Regions from separate parts of the Homo sapiens genome. Here region 2 is linked to region 1. The links come from fine-mapping of genetic effects on gene expression. A gene starts in region 1. The other region holds a variant in brackets. All regions are shown on one strand. Distances are from middle to middle.

Region 1 (8,000 bases):
GTAAAGCCTGAGATGTTTGCCAAGGCCCCCTTAATTGGTGGGATTCTAACTGTGCCTTCCCTGTGGTGTCTATCAGTTGAAATGTCTGCTCAGTTTCTTCTTCCTTCCAGCTGTTACTTTCCTCCAGAGTCCTTGAAGGCTCCTTTGTAAATACACAGCTCAGGAATCGGCCAAGGTTTTGAGATCATTTATATGCCAATTTAGGGGCTCCCTCATTTCTAGTTTCCTCCTTTCTGGGACTTCCACCTTCGATTTTTAGTCACTTTGATAGTCTTGAACTTTGTGCTCTGATATATCATGTCAATCAATAAGGCTGAGGCTTTCTAGCAATCCCTTCATGTGGTGTCAAGTGATAACCTTCAGGGAAAAAAAGGGGCTGGGGTAATGTTACACAGTATAGAAGTATTATTTCAAGAAACAAATCCCTCCAGTTTCTGTCTGATTTGTGTTGCTCTATAGTGCCTTCGTGTAGTTTTTCATATTTTGACTAGGGTTTATAATTGTTTGTCTACATTGTCTACATTGAGCTACTCCACCATTCCTGAGACTAAAACTAGTCCTGTTAAATTATTATTATTCACTTGAAAACTGACTTACAAATATAATGAAACTTATGCTATCAGTCTTATTTCCTATAAAACAGAATACGTATTAGGTAAGATGAGTAGGAGTTTCAGAACTATAATATAGAAGGGATCTTGGATCCAGGAGATTTTTCTTGAAGCTCTGTGTACATGGTAAGCACACTATTTTTAGCTAATGTTATATTTATTTGAATGGTGGTGCAATGAAGTATGGTGGTATACTGGGGAAGAGTACTGTGGAGAAGATGAGACGACTCAAATTCCCAAGTCACTCTGGTAGGTCACTGGCTGAGATTCTCTTCAAAGAGGTATCATTATTAAAAAACAAGCAATAATCTTGACTGAAAGAAAGGACCATATAGCATAGACCCTGAAGAAAGAGTTGGAATGAGTTTAAAGTATATTAGCATAAGAGTCACTCATGTCTACACTGAGCAACCCATATGGATTTTAATTGAACAAGTTGCAAAATATTAGGCAACTTTTTTTTCTGTGCCATCTTCAAGGTTTGCAACAAATAATAGTGTCTAACAGTAAATCAATTTTGAGTTAACTCATTGACAAATTAAGAGAATTCATCATATTTCCATTTGGTAATATGTCATCTCCATTGGGTGGCCTTCTCTCAGTGTTATTCTCTGGTTTTCCTTCATTACACTTACTAAAACATGAGATTATATATTTTTGTACTTGTTTGTTTAACTATCTTAGTGAAATGTGAGGACAACAGTCCTTAAGCAAGACATTGATCATCATTTAAGATTAAACTTAGTCTAAATTAATCATACTAAGTCATACTTAAATGAAAGTGTGTCCACCTTTTAAACTGGATAATATGGACATTGTTTTTCTACCATGCCTATTCAAATCTTCCCTTTACCCAGATGATTCAAGCCACTGAAACCTCTTGTATCTCTGATCTATATAAATTTAAAAAGTATTTTTAATATCCAGACTTTGTTAAATCCCATTTAATCCAAGTAGTAAATTTTAAGTACAGTATATACTTTGTAGAAAATATATAGGATAACTATCAATATTATCAATATTAAGATCAACAAACAATAACAGATTATTTCACTTAATTGTAGCCCTCCTTTGAGTTATTAATATTCCAATGTAATAGACGAGAAAAGTATAGTTCAGAGAGGTTAAGTGACTTGGCCAAAGTCATACAACTAATAAATGACCAGTTCCTATAACTGACTAGCTATCATTCCATTATACTATAACTCTCAGAGAGTTATTTGGAAGAGATCTTTAAACAGTAACAAACCAGGTGATGGAAAAACTTAATAATTTATTATAGGTGCAATATAAATATTTGTCAACATTCCATGCTGTTTCTTTCCAAAATATGAAGTCAAATAGATGGGCATATTTTCATTTAAGTATGATTTAATTAAATCAGACTAAATTTAATCTTGAACAATGGTCTATGTATTTACAAATGTTTCAGAATGTGAAGACACAAAAAGAATATCTATTAATTTAAAGACATGAGGATCACATTTTTAAACGTTTAATTTCCTCACAAAGCAGTATTACTACATTCTTTATCTTCTTCCTCTCTCACACCCCTCTTCAACCAGACACCCATCTACCATTACTCAAGCCACCACCTGTGTTGTTTAGCTCTGCACTTAACCTTCCCCCACTGTAGAGGACAATGGTCTTAGTGCATACAAGCTGATTGCAAATATTATACTGCTTCAAATCCAAAGTAATGTGTGAGATGGACATGAAAACTTCAAAATTGTTCCCCCACCCCCCCAACCCCCGCAGAACACACGGACAAATGTGGTTAGCAGGGTCTATCTTGTTCTCTGATCACTAACTTCAACAAAGAGGAAGTCCAAAGAGTGCAACTGCCAATGGTAAAAGGAACCCTTTACAAGAAAAAGGAAAGGAAAGGAAACTTCCTTTGTGCATAACAGTATAGCCATTTTTAACAATGGAAAACAGCCTGGGCTACTACTTCTCATGCTTCAACTTAGGAAACGTTTTTAGGTGAAGACTGATTCTGGACCAAAACTTCTTGAACATCCTAAGCTGACTCAGTTGTCCCTTTTCTTTGATTCTGACTTCCCACCCTCCATCATGCTCCTGCTCAGCTAAATCTTTCCAGCCTTACCTGTTGTTCTAACCACAGACCTAGGCTCTCTGCCTTCTGCCTCACTCTTATCCATCCCATACTGACTCCTCTCCTTCCTAAGGCAAAAAAAAAAAAAAAAAGACTTCTTCAAATCTACTCTCCCGTAGTAGATCTGCCTCCCACTACACTCTCATAAACTCAAGTTGAAGCTTCTGTCACAGATTCACAGATTCCTTCAACCTTCTGGGGCATGGAATGTAGCCTGCGCCACCAGCCAGCTCAGTCTCTTCCTGTTTTGGATTCTCCTCTCAGGCCCGCATCTTCCCAGCATCTTCTCTCCTCCCGTGCCCGCTCAGACCATCCTCTAAATGTCCTCAATTCTCAGACACACATCTCCGCCCCTTTCAGGCTCACGGCCCCTCAGAAGTCCTCTCCTCTCAGATCCACTGCTCTTTCTTCCTCTGATGCCTTTGCTTCCCAGACCCACAACGCCCCTCAGACCCACGCGCCCCTCGACCGCCCTCCCCCGTCAGACCTACACCAGTCACCTGGACCCGCCCCAGACCCTGGCTCCCCTCGGGCCACCTCCCTCCTCAGACCCATGCCCCCTTCAGGCCACCTCCCTCCTCAGACTCTCGCCCGCCTCGGACCACCTCACTCCCTCAGACCCACGCCCCCCTCGGCCGCCCTCCTCTCTCAGACCCACACCCCTTACCTGGACCCCCCTCTGACCTAGGCCCCCCTCAGACCACCTCTCCCCTCAGACCCACGCCCCTCACCTGGACCCGCCTCGCGGAGCCGATCTGCGTCTGCTGCACGAAGGGGTTCGGCACCGGCGGCGGGAAGAAGGACGCCTGACGGGGCACCATGGGCGGCCGCAGCCCCACGTTCCCGACGCCGGCACCTGGCACTGTGGCCGCCACTTCCGCCGCCTGGGCGCACCGGCTCATAGTTGAGCCGGGCGTAGAACCCGGCCGAAGCGATCTACGCGGGCGCTGCAGCCAAAACTGAGCCGAAGACCTACTAGAGTCCCAGCCTAGGGCGACGCTGGGGAGCCTCTGCGCAGGCGCTGAAGTTACTTAGACGCCTGCTGCTGCCGCCCTGCCCCTTCGGCTGTGACACGCCCCAGGCTCTGGCCACACCCCCTCAGGCATCTGGCTCCACCCCCTTGGTAATATAGTCCATCCCCTCGGAGGGGAATGTTTTCCTTCCGAGCCAAGACCCTGAAGGGTACCCCAGGATCCCTAACATTCCACAGCGAGACACTAGGCAGAGTTCCCTGCTTTAGGGTCGGACGGACCTGGATTTTCAATCCCTTTTACTGGGCCTGTGACGCTGGCCAAATCACTATCTCTATGAACCTCGGTTGCCTTCCGTAAAATGCAGATAAATGTATTCTCAGATAATCCTAACCTGGATCCAGTAATGCCATTGAGCAACCACTTCCCCTGGGCTGTTCCATTAAGTGAGCTAATATTAATACACCCATGATGGCACTAGGAGTGGAATTTGTTTCACTCAAAACATAATGGACTGACAGGGGAGAGATGGTTCTCCAGAGGAAAACTGAGCTACTATTACCAGAAAAGGCAAAAATTACAGTTGCCCTCCACGCTAGATGAGGAACCTGACCCAGAAAAGGGAAATGTATTGGGCTGTGGCTCCCTTTCACACTGAGGAAGTTCAAGCCTGTTTGGACCTATGTGGGTGCTCGTGGGGGTGGGAGGGCAGGGGTTTGTCCCATTATCTGAGGACAGTTGATCAACCCTGAGTGGCTGAGAGTTAAAGGAAGGAGATGATAATCAACTCATCCCAACTGATCAACTCTTCTCACAGCAGGTAGGAAGGCCAGGATGAAAATCTGAGTCTGAGCCCTGGGGTTCTCCAAAGTTACCCTCTGAATGTCAGAATCTTCCAGCCCTACCACATAGATGTGTGGCCTTGAGTCAGTCACTTAACCTGAGTTTGCTTCCTTGTCTAGGAATGGGAGATTCATTCTAACTCCATAGAATTGTAGCAAGGATTAAATAAAATAATGCATGTGTAGTGTTCATAGAGAAACACTGAAGAAATGGCATGTTTTAAGCATTATTATGTTGTGGAGCCACTGACTTTTCTCTCAGTGTAACAGGGAACATTAATAACAGTGCATTACAGCCATGATAGAAGATTCCCCAGTCTAGGGGGTCTTCAAGTTGGGACTGGCAGACCCTTGAGACTCTTTAGCCAGATACCTGCACAGAAAGATGTCTTTCCAACTGTCAACAACCTAAGCCAGGCCAGGTGCAGTGGCTCACGCCTGTAATCCTAGCACTTTGGGGGCTGAGGAGGGTGGATCCCTTGAGCCCAGGAGTTCGAGACCAGCCTGGGCAACAAAGAGAGACTCCACCATCTCTAAAAAAAATTAAAAATTAGCTGGCTGTGCTGTTGCATGCCTGCAGTCCCAGCTACTCAGGAGGCTGAAGTGGGAGGATTGCTTGAGCCCAGAAGATCAAGTCTGCAGTGAGCTATGATCATGCCATTGCACTCCAGCCTGGGTGACAGAGAAAGACACTGTCTCAAAAAAGAAAAAAAAAGAAGAAGAAGAAACAAAAAGAATCTGAGTCAAGGGGACAGGCCATGGGAGGATAAAAGATAGAAAAGATGGGGCCGAGAGTGGTGGCTCACACCAATAATCCTAGCACTTTGGGAGGCCGAGATGGGTGGATTGCCTGATCTCAGGAGTTCGAGACCAGCCTGGGCAACACGGTGATACCTGTCTCTACCAAAATACAAAACAAATTAGCTGGGTATGGTGGCGTGCACCTGTAATCCCAGCTACTTGGGAGGCTGAGGCAGGAGAATCACTTAAACCTGGGAGGCAGAGGTTACAGTGAGCCGAGATTGCGCCATTGCACTCCAGCCTGGGTGACAGAGTGAGACTCCATCTCAAAAACAGAAAAAAGAGATAGAAACAATGACATCAGGCTCACTGAGGAGGTCACCTGTAGAGTTCACTCCTTACGCACCTTCCTCACCAGCCCCATCATAAGAGGCCAGAAGCAATATATATACTATCAATCAGACTATCGGAGCCAGAAAGGGCCTCAGAAAAACCCCAGGCCTTCAATTTCTGTTCAGCAGTAGCTCCAGAATTTCTATGTAGGAGATTAGGAGTGGGTAGACTGGTAGGAAGGAGTAAGGAGCTTATCCATTAATACCAGCTGTGTTTAGAAGCAAGCACAGTATTTCTCCCTTAGCTGTGTTTACCCAGCGTGGTTTTGGGGGTGGTGGAGGGTAGCAGGAGCGGTTTTGAAGGTGGTGGGGGTGTTTTTGAGGGTGGCGGAGGGTGGTGAGATTCTGGTTTGAGAGCTAAAGCTCCTCTGCTAGGCTATCCTTTGGCCTTGTAGGTCCCTAATAGCTATGGGACCCTGGAAAAATCACTTCTCTTGAGCCATCAGTCTCTTCATCAATAAGATTCAACTAATAATGGCCTTTTTTATTTATGTGGTTGGAAAGGTTAAAATAGGTGACACGTGAAAAGTGCCTTGCACATAGAAAGCACTCTATTAATTGAGGGGGATATTATTGTTACTGTTCATTGTTAGTAGTAGCATTAAAACTGATATGATTGCTAATGAAGAAACAGACTTAAAGAGGAAGCAAACCTCGAACAGATGCCACAATAAAGCAACAAAATTGCTGATTCTTCAGGGCTCTTTCTACAGGACAGAGGGACTAGAGCTTACTCTCCCTGAGGTTCTCTTGCTGTTTACTTTGGAAGCTCTGACCTTTCCAGCAGACACCATCACCTGTGCCCTGCAGGGAGCAGAGATTCGGACTTTTTAAGTTTCCGCTTCTGGCTGGGTCTGTGGCCCTTGTCTAGGCTCTGCTAAAACAGATGGCAAACACGGCCACTCAGTAGGTGTCTTTATTCATACTTGTTGACATTTCCCATGGGGAATGGTTGAAGGGAGGGGCAGGGAGGGCTGAGCGGGAAGCCACGGCTTGGTTTTCCTCCATCCAGTGGAGAAGAGACTCGGTAGGGACATGCTAAGTAGAGTGAACAGGGGAACCATCACTATGTGGGCTGAGATGCACTGTGCAGTGACTTCAGACAACCTGAGTCCTTCTGTCAGGAAATGCAATTTCTAAGTGGAAAAAAAAAACAAGACCCAAAGAAAAAAACAAAGTGCATACAAAGCAAACTGCTAATGTAAGAAAGGTTCTAAGGCAGCCAGCAGTGAAAAGCCAGGGGTCTGGAGTGGCCACCTGGCCATGCCCTGTCCCACTGCCCTGTGCCAGGCTGTCGGGCCACCAGTGCCCTCTTGAGACAGTCTCCATTGGCTCCAAGGGTTCTGTGAGCCACAGAAGGTTGTGAAAGGAGAAGAGCCTGAAGTGTGGCAGCACCAGGGCAGCCCAAAGCAGGGCTGCGTTGAAAATATCAAAGTATCTCTTTAGGGGTGGCTCTGAGGGTTGGTGGGATTGGAGGGGGAAGGGGCGCCTGGGAGGAGTACAGTCAGCATCTATTCTTGGGCACCGGGAGGAGCCACTCTCTGGAATCTTAAATTACCAGGTAGGAGTGAGAATGCTGATTAGCTGTAGAGCTGAAGGCACGGCTGCCAGGCCCCTCCGGGTCCTTCTCTAGTTCTCCAGGCCCGGTGTATCGAAGGCAGTGGAGAGGAAGGGCCTGTGGGAGCCAGGGCCAGCTCAGCAGCCTAGCCAGTCGGATTTGATGCTTCCAAACTTCACGCTCTTCAGACTTTGGTTCTCCAGCTTCAGGTAATAGGCACCCTTGAAGAAGTAGCTGTGACCTGGGATAGAGAAAGAAGAGACCGTGACCCCCTTATCCTGACATTCTGGCACACAGAAGGTTCCTGGGAACTTTGAATTTCTGCCTGGCATAGGGAAGAAGCTTTTAAACGAGAAGAGAGCTTTGAAAGGCTGAGGCAGGAGGATTGCTTGAGCCCAGGAGTTCGAGACCAGCTTGGGCAGCATAGAGAGACCCCCATTTCTACGAAAAACATATTTAAATTAGCTGGGTATAGTGGTACATTCCTGTAGTCCAAGCTACTTAGGAGGCTGACGTGGGAGGGTCGCTTAAGCCCAGGAGTTCGAGGCTGCAGTGAGCTATGATTGTGCCTCTAGCCTGGGTGATAGAGCAAGACCTTGTCCCCCCGCCAAAAAAAAAACTCAACTGTGGCGGGGCGCGGTGGCTCACGCCTGTAATCCCAGCACTTTGGGAGGCCGAGACGGGCAGATCACGAAGTCAGGAGATCAAGACCATCCTGGCTAACATGGTGAAACCTCGTCTCTACTAAAAATACAAAAAATTAGCCGGG
Region 2 (8,000 bases), 28 kb before region 1:
TTCCATTCATAAACTAGCTGCGGCCCACTTAGTGCTTTATAGTGTGACATAGCATGTATTCTCTCTCATGAGATAAACTAACAGACTCTTAATTCATGTCACATTTTGTAATGTTTCCTACTAGCTATTTCATTCCCTATGCCCTAAGCCATATCCTTATAAAGGGATACTTGTGAAACAGCTGGTTAATAAAAGTATGACTAAAAGATACTTTAAGAACACCCATTATGCCACATTAGAATTCAAAGAATAACTTTTAGTAGAACCATTCTGTAGACAGACAACTTCATCATTGTTCAAGGATGCCAGAAGAACAATTACACAGGACATGAGGTTTAGAACTAACTATATTTTTAAGATCCAAGAGTCGAGAAAATAATAACCTTTTCAAAAATACTGTATGTCTCTATGTTGGGAAGCAGAGAGGGCTGGGAAGAGGTGGTAAGAAAATATTCCTAAATATTAGACTCATTATATCTTAGATATCTAATGATTTTGGTAATTAAAGACTTTGGTAGTCATGATTACTGAGGGGAGACTTGTGAAACTAAAGGATATGGCAGCCAACATAATGGGGTGTCATGTGACTCACAAAAGCAAGACTGTCTAAAACGGCACTTTGATAATTCATTCAAAGTTCATTTGAAAAACCATAAAATTAATACCATATTCTTGAATAATATATCTTGAATTAGGTTTACCTAATATTCAAGAAGTTCTAAAAACATGTTTAAAATAAGATAGTAACAAGGATTTCCATCAATTTAAAAAAAAAGAAAAAAGGGGGTTACTTGAGAACAACCAAGACAATTGAAACTGGAGCAACTAAATGTACTGAGACCACAAACCAATCTCAAGCTGGGCCTCAGCAGACGTAGTGGAAAAGCTGGAGCCTCAGAGATGGCCCAGCTCTTACAGAGCTTCAAGCCAGGGTGTGGTATACTTAGTGCCTGAAGGGCTGCTGGGATACATTTTCAGTTAAATCCAACAGTGAGTATTAAAATATTAAAATATCATAAAGTATTTAGGAGTCACCTGGGTGAAAGGGGGAGTCATAAATTTAAAGTAAACATAATTAAAATAAGAATATTTGTACTAAATTTGAAGTCCACAAATTCCCATCCTCTTGTTCTGCACTACGATTCTAATTCATCAAATCTCTGTCGACGCGGCTATTTTCAAGCAGCTGAAAGTCATTTTATTTGTGAAGTTATGGAACAAAGAATACATTGTTTTCTTTGCCAGAAAAATATGATCCAAACAGGTCTCAGAACTGGCTGGAGAATGCAAATATCGTAATTAAAAAAAAAAAAGACAGAAAAAAAAAAAGAAAGCCATGACACAGAAAGGAAATGTGGTAATAATGGTCATGACAAAAAAAAAAAGAGGAATCTGAATACCTCTGTTGTAATGCAGTTTGACCACTGACATGCTATGGCAAAAAAGACAGCTTTGTATACATTTCTACATGTGTTGCTAGATCTTGTTTTAGCTACAGAGGGGTACATTGAGAGGAAGAGACAATATCTTGCAGAGAAGATAGCATGGCTTTTTTAAAGTATGAGTTTTCTTGTTTTTTTAGAAAAGTGAAACAGGCCTAGACTACCTGAGCAGCTATTAAAGAAGCAAGAGCAGTGCTCAGAGTATTTAGAAATATTATGATATAAGGCTTCCTGAAGTGTATTCTATAGAACACTGGTTCCGGGAGATATCTAGAGAAAAAGGTTCTGTAAGTCAGACATTTCAAAGGCACTGAGTAGTCTTGAGAAAAAAAAAATTCATTTTGTTTCCCTTGATACTTCCAAATGTTATTAAATTAGTTTTTGTTCCCCAGGAACCTCTAAGAAAAACCCAAGAACAAGTGTGGGTTTTCTTTTTTTTTTTTTTTTTTTTTTTTGGCCACAGTGAGAGATAACTGAACTGGTTTTAAAAGTGGGGGTGTATGAAATATAATTAATAAACAGATATTTTCAAGACAGGCAGAAAACATGCAAATCTCAAGAAAATTTCACAAAACTCATTCTGAAATGTAATTTGCCCTCCTAAATCATTTGGTATTACTGACAGTCTCTAAATGGCCAAATCACTAAGCTATCTAGCAAAGCAAAATAGTATTCTTGTGAATTAAATTCCACAGTCCTGTCACTTAGGCACTAGACCCCACTCAGAACTCTGCATGACACAGGCAAACTTAAGGTTTTCGTTACACAATCCATGGATGCAATTAGAAAATCTAGGAGACCCATTATCAAACCATCTCTCTTCGGAGACTACCTGAGGGTACTGCTAAAACCGACTGGATGCTGAATTCAGGGTTCTACTCTACATCATATCTAGAAACTAAGAACAGCTCTAGAACCAACCTTTAGAGCCTTAAAAACCTGGTCAAAATTTTCAGAATGTTGTAATAACTCCTCTCTCACTACCTGCCACTGTAATTCAAACCAAAAGACTGTCCTGTGGATGATGATATGTGCTGCCTCCCAGATAGAATTTCCTTGGGCTTTTCATGTGCAGGGTGATTTCACAGTGAAGGCTTCTGACCTCTATGTCTCTCCCCTAGACCCCAAGTAGCATCTCTTAGCTTTCACAAAACATTTTCTTTAAGGAGGTGTGGGGCTCTATCAGCTATGGTCAGTTCCTTTTGTCAGGATGTGAAAATATATCATTCAATTTGGCAGAGGTCAGCATTAAAGGAGTAAAAAGATGAGAGCAAGGTGATGCCCCTCTGGCCAGCCAGGGTGGTTACATGTTTCAAGTTCCCAGAATCTAGAGGTGTTTTCTAACATGATTTCAAGGGCTAAATCTGACAGCCTAGGTTTATATACACAATTTGTAAAACACCTGGTGATGGACCTTTATATCTGGTCTCTCTAGACTAGAGGTTCAAAATTAAAGGAAAGGCCAAATCTCAAGTTCCAAGGCCACATTTTGAATGACTTACCTCAACTTCTACCTTTGTGAAGAGCTGGCAGAAAGTAAGCATACAAAGCTGAATGCTGAAGAGAAAAAAGAAAAGTCTATCTTTATACAGTCATGCAAGTATCATCTTATATTATTCAACAATCATTTCTTTATACACAAATACCCTCACATCACACTTCACATATATTTTGCATTTATAAATGCTACACTGCAGCTATAACACTTTTTGGGCCTAGACAACTATTCTTTTTTTTTTTTTTGGGGACAGGGTCTTACTCCGTCACCCAGTCTGGAGTACAGTGGCATAATCACGGCTCACTGCAGCCTCAACCTCCTGGGCTCAGGTGATCCTCCCACCTCAGCCTCCCAAGTAGCTGAGACTACAGGTGTGAGCCACTGTGCCCGGCTTAGACAAGTATTCTTGACAATTATTATTCAAAAGTTAAATCATCAAATGAATACCAAATATGTATTTCAGTCAGAGCCTCAGCTCAACAGACTAAACCACAAATTTGAAGTTTCCTTGACAACACAGACTCAAAGGCCCAAGTCTCTAGAGAAACTACCCAAGGCCACATTTTAAGGTATGTAAATGTGTTTATAAAACTCCTAGGTAGATCATTACATTTCTGAACTGTTTTTTGACATTAAAAAAAATCAATGGGCCTTTCCTTAAAAGTGGAAGCTTTATCAAAATTGTCCCAGTTATTAATAAATGTTTTAGTTATGAGGAAATCTGAAAAGCTTCAAATTTCATTGTAAAGGCAGGCAAATGCTGTCTTTAAAGTGGTTAAGCAACCCTCTAAAAGATAATGTTTGAAATAGTTGTTCCTACTTATAGCTTTCCAGTACATATTTAGACTCTCTGGATAAGACTTCTACTGGATTTTTAGTTTAGTCTCATTAGACAATTGACCCAGAAACCAGGCAGAATGGATTAAACTACACATTTAAAAAAAGAACCAACCAATCTCTTTTCACTGTTAAGAAATTAAAACATAATTTATCTGTAAAAATTACCTGAGGGAACTTATTTAAGGAATGTAGGAGCTTAAGAATTTAGTTAAAAGAAATAATTTAGAAAGTAGATATATCACTTTCATAATTAATTATAAATTGTTAATGTGTCAGTTCACAAATCTTCCATTTGAAAGAAAAAAATCTTTTACTATCTATAAACTCTAAAGTCAATCCACACTATCTAGCATAAGTTGTTTTTAATTATTTAAATGGAGCTGTGGAATTCAATTACTTGAATAGATGCATTCTATTCTGAAAATTCTGAATACTGTGAAAAATATGAAACCACACATAAAATCTCATTTAACCTGTCTTGTC[C/T]ACCCTACAGACAGACCAAATACTTCTTAGTCTGATACAAAACTTCTCTAAGTTTATTCCAAGTCTCCTTTTCCTTGGGATATTCGTTTTGGTATAAAATCTGTTTCTTAGAATCTGTAACTGGAGTAGCACTTTGAGCAAGGGCAATTGAGAAAACAGATTTAGAAGTAACAGACACAGTGCTAATAATATTAAGTAGATGAGAAGACAAAAGTGGACGTGAGATTTGCAATAGATTGAACAAAACAAAGCTGTGCCTTTCAAAGATTTTGTGTTTGTTTAAAAGTCCTGAAAAATTTTTGACTCTCAAAATATTTTTTCTCCCTTTCATTCCTGAATTCTTTCTCCTAATTTCCTTTTCCTCTTCTCACATACTTCTCAGTTGAGAAGGCTAGATTAACTAAACCCGTCTATTATATTTTCTATCCCCAGTTCCTCTTCCAGAAAAGCTTTCTCCTATTTGATCATCACATTAACCTGGACTGCTGGGCAACCAAAAAAAGTCCTATTGGCCACATCACTATCTCTGTAAGGAACTTAACCTGTAAAGGCCCAAAGGATGGCACACCTCAGAAAGTGGAAGTATGCTATGCATCCATTGTTAAGGCACTTCGTTTTCCCAAATACTTTCATACTACCTGTTTCTCCCAATTCTTCCATGTCTAAAAGCAATCAGGAATTCAAAATAAGTAATGGCATGAAACATGTATTTTAGTCAAATGAATAAATTGATTTCCTGGTAAGTGAAAGATAATATGCTGTTTAGATATCCTTTACAATTTATGTTCTTTATGTTTGGCGTTATTTGTGTATCTTCAATTATCAAGGACTGAAGCATAACAAGAATATAAGTGTTTCATATGTGTTAATATTTATTCTACTGTCTCATCAGTTACCTATTCTGATTTAAATTTATTATTTCAAAGCAATGTATATATACACAAAATGGAGAAATTATGCAGTTTTGATTTCAGAAGTTGGTTGGATTACGTTGAAGTTATCTAAAAAAGCCTACAATGTGCTTAAGGCAACTGATGATTTCCTTAAATATTTCCAAGTTATTGTCACCTACCCATCAACAATGTTATCTGAGCTTTGTGCTTAACAATATGAAAACTGGGTAAGACCCTAAAGGAAGTCTTCAAATTCAGGTATTTCATACGGCTCTCACCAAAATTTAAACAGGCTCAGACTTATTCAGAGGGAACTAAACAAACGATCTTGAGAGAAACCAAGTTTCTACATGTTCTGTTCTTTTTAAAGGCCTACTTCACATCAGCTTGCTTAATAATGAAACTGTATTCCTCTTCTCTCTTAAGTAAAGTGCTTATAGAAACTGCTGATTCCAATGCTTTTCAAATCCAAGAGCAGAACTGAAATCTTGGTTAGCTATTTTTTCAACTCATATCAGACACATCATAGCTATTTCAGGCCATATGACTAAATTTTTCTGAATGGCTTAAACCAACATAGTAAGTAAGGATAGAGACACTAGATAATGCCAAATCTGCAATGGAAATAAAACTACAAAATTAAAGCTAACTATGATGCAAACTAGGTCACTTACGAACTAGCAAACACTTGAGACCCATTTGAATGGGACAGATGACTAGAATTTTGCACACAGAAGACTCCAGGGGTTAGTGGTCAAGATAGTGATGCTCTCTACAGAGACTTATCAGTTATAAGACTTAGGGCTCTGATCAGAAATCTTTATGTTTTTAAATATAACAATATTTTTAAAATAATACTTTTTTAAAGAATGAATAAATGATCTTTCTTTTTCTTCACTAAAATAAAATTTATATAAACTAATAATAGACATAAGTGACTTACAATGTATATCCTTGCCATGTCCAGGTCACAGTATCCTATAATAACAAAATTATTTTAGCTGTTGGTCTGGAGGAAAAATACTAAATAAAATAAAGATCTTATTTTAATATGGGGATTCATGTATTTTTTCTGAAATTAAAAGCAACATGTTGAGAAGTAAAATAAATACATTATTGTTAAAGAACAGTGAACTGATCTATGAATTCTTGGATTACATATCTACATAGCAAAGATCTTCCTAATGTCAACAACTTTTGATGAAATGACTTGTTTTAATTTTTTAAAAACTATTTTACATGCTTAGCCACTTTTCTCCTAATATGAACATATCTGGATAATTAATTTGATTACAAAAAACTCAGAATATATCCGTTTTCAAAAAAAAGCTTATTTGGGGGAAATAAAATAATATGAACATACAATAAACTCAAACCTATGGGCAGAAGTACAACAAATAAAAGTTTGATAGATTTTAATTCTTTTTTTAACCATAGATGTCCAAGGTTGAAAAACCAGCCTCTAAATAGAAAACTGATTTGATCAATAACCCTTAATATTAAATAGTAGAGATAACTAATAATTATATCCTGGCTTTTAATATAAATTCTCTAGTAAAGAAAGTTCCTCTCAGAACCAAAACATTCCCTCAAAAATCTTTCTTTAGGAAAATGGTGGTAAAATCAATATTTAGAGGACAACAATGTACCCAACTGGAACAGAAGAGACTACTTCCTGAGTCAACTCTGGACTTTATATGTTAAGCTAGGCCAGATGCAGTGGCTCATGCCTGTAATCCCAGCACTTTGGGAGGCCAAGACAGGTGGATTACTTGAGGTCAGGAGTTCAAGACCAGCCTGGTCAACATGGTGAAACCCTGTCTCTATTAAAAATTCAAAAATTAGCCGGGCATGGTGGCACATGCCTGTAATCCCCACTACTCGGGAGGCTGAGAAAGGAGAGAATCACTTGAACCCAGGAAGCGGAGGTTGTAGTGAGCCAAGATCACGCCATTGTACTCCAGCCTTGATGACAGAGCAAGACTCTGTCTCAAAAAAAAAAAAAAAAAAAAAACCCGAAAAACAAAAAAAGATGTTAAGTTTTCTCAGGTATTTTCTTATTTAATTAAGTTACTTACTACCAAGGCTCACACAATTAGTAAGTACTGAGGCAGTAATGAAAGACCAAGCCTCTTTAATATTTATCCTGCTATTTCAATACTTCTTCACTAGTAATGACCACTGAGTCAGGAAAAATTTCTTTCTAGAGTTAATGAAAATCACAGATTTTTAACTATTCATTCTAATGAGACCCTAATCTGGGAATTAATCACACCAACATGGTGACAACAGAGTAAAGGCTAAGAAAATATCTTCCTGAAGTTCAGTAATAGCAAAATAATATTTAATATTGGTATCAATGGATATGTGCCTATCTTGCAAAATTTTAAAAACTAGATGTGGCGAGCAGAATGAGCTCTCCCATTTGCTTCCACCATTTATCTGTTCACAACCTTATTTATATATTAAAAGGGGTCCCAGAGAATCTGTGCTACTTGGAATACTGAAATTCTTCCTGTGGTAAAATACTGTGCTTACCAGCTTGTTTGGGTATCTGAGGAGGACTGGCTGCACTGGAACTCCTGGAATGAAGGCTCCTGCAACCACATTGAAAGTTTATAATGTGTTTTTATGTGAATAAAAGTTTTATGATAAAGAGAAAATTAATAAATAGTATAAATAGACTGAATATTTTAAGAGTATGTGTAACAGAAATCATTTGCTAAATGTTGGTAAATCCCTAGTGCTTACCAAAATGAGGGATTTTTTTTTTTTAATTAAGAACTACTGAAGCAAAATATTAAATGCTGTGCCTATGCCACTTAAAATATTTGTTTATTCATT

What was found.
Region 2: its variant is fine-mapped to the expression of LPCAT2 in whole blood (TOPMed, PIP 0.94).

What each region holds. Positions count from the first base shown.
Region 1 is chr16:55,504,811-55,512,810 of GRCh38, reverse strand. It overlaps LPCAT2 (lysophosphatidylcholine acyltransferase 2), which reads right to left and starts at 3,739. Exons shown (of 14, transcript NM_017839.5): 1 at 3,459-3,739. The coding sequence starts at 3,629. MMP2 (matrix metallopeptidase 2) reads right to left here. Exons shown (of 13, transcript NM_004530.6): 13 at 6,120-7,472. The coding sequence ends at 7,369.
Region 2 is chr16:55,532,577-55,540,576 of GRCh38, reverse strand. LPCAT2 (lysophosphatidylcholine acyltransferase 2) reads right to left here. Exons shown (of 14, transcript NM_017839.5): 6 at 7,695-7,753; 7 at 6,100-6,134; 8 at 2,945-2,999. Among named protein-coding and RNA genes, the nearest start is that of LPCAT2, 28 kb to the right of the region's middle. The variant C/T (reference allele first, on the strand shown) is at 4,264.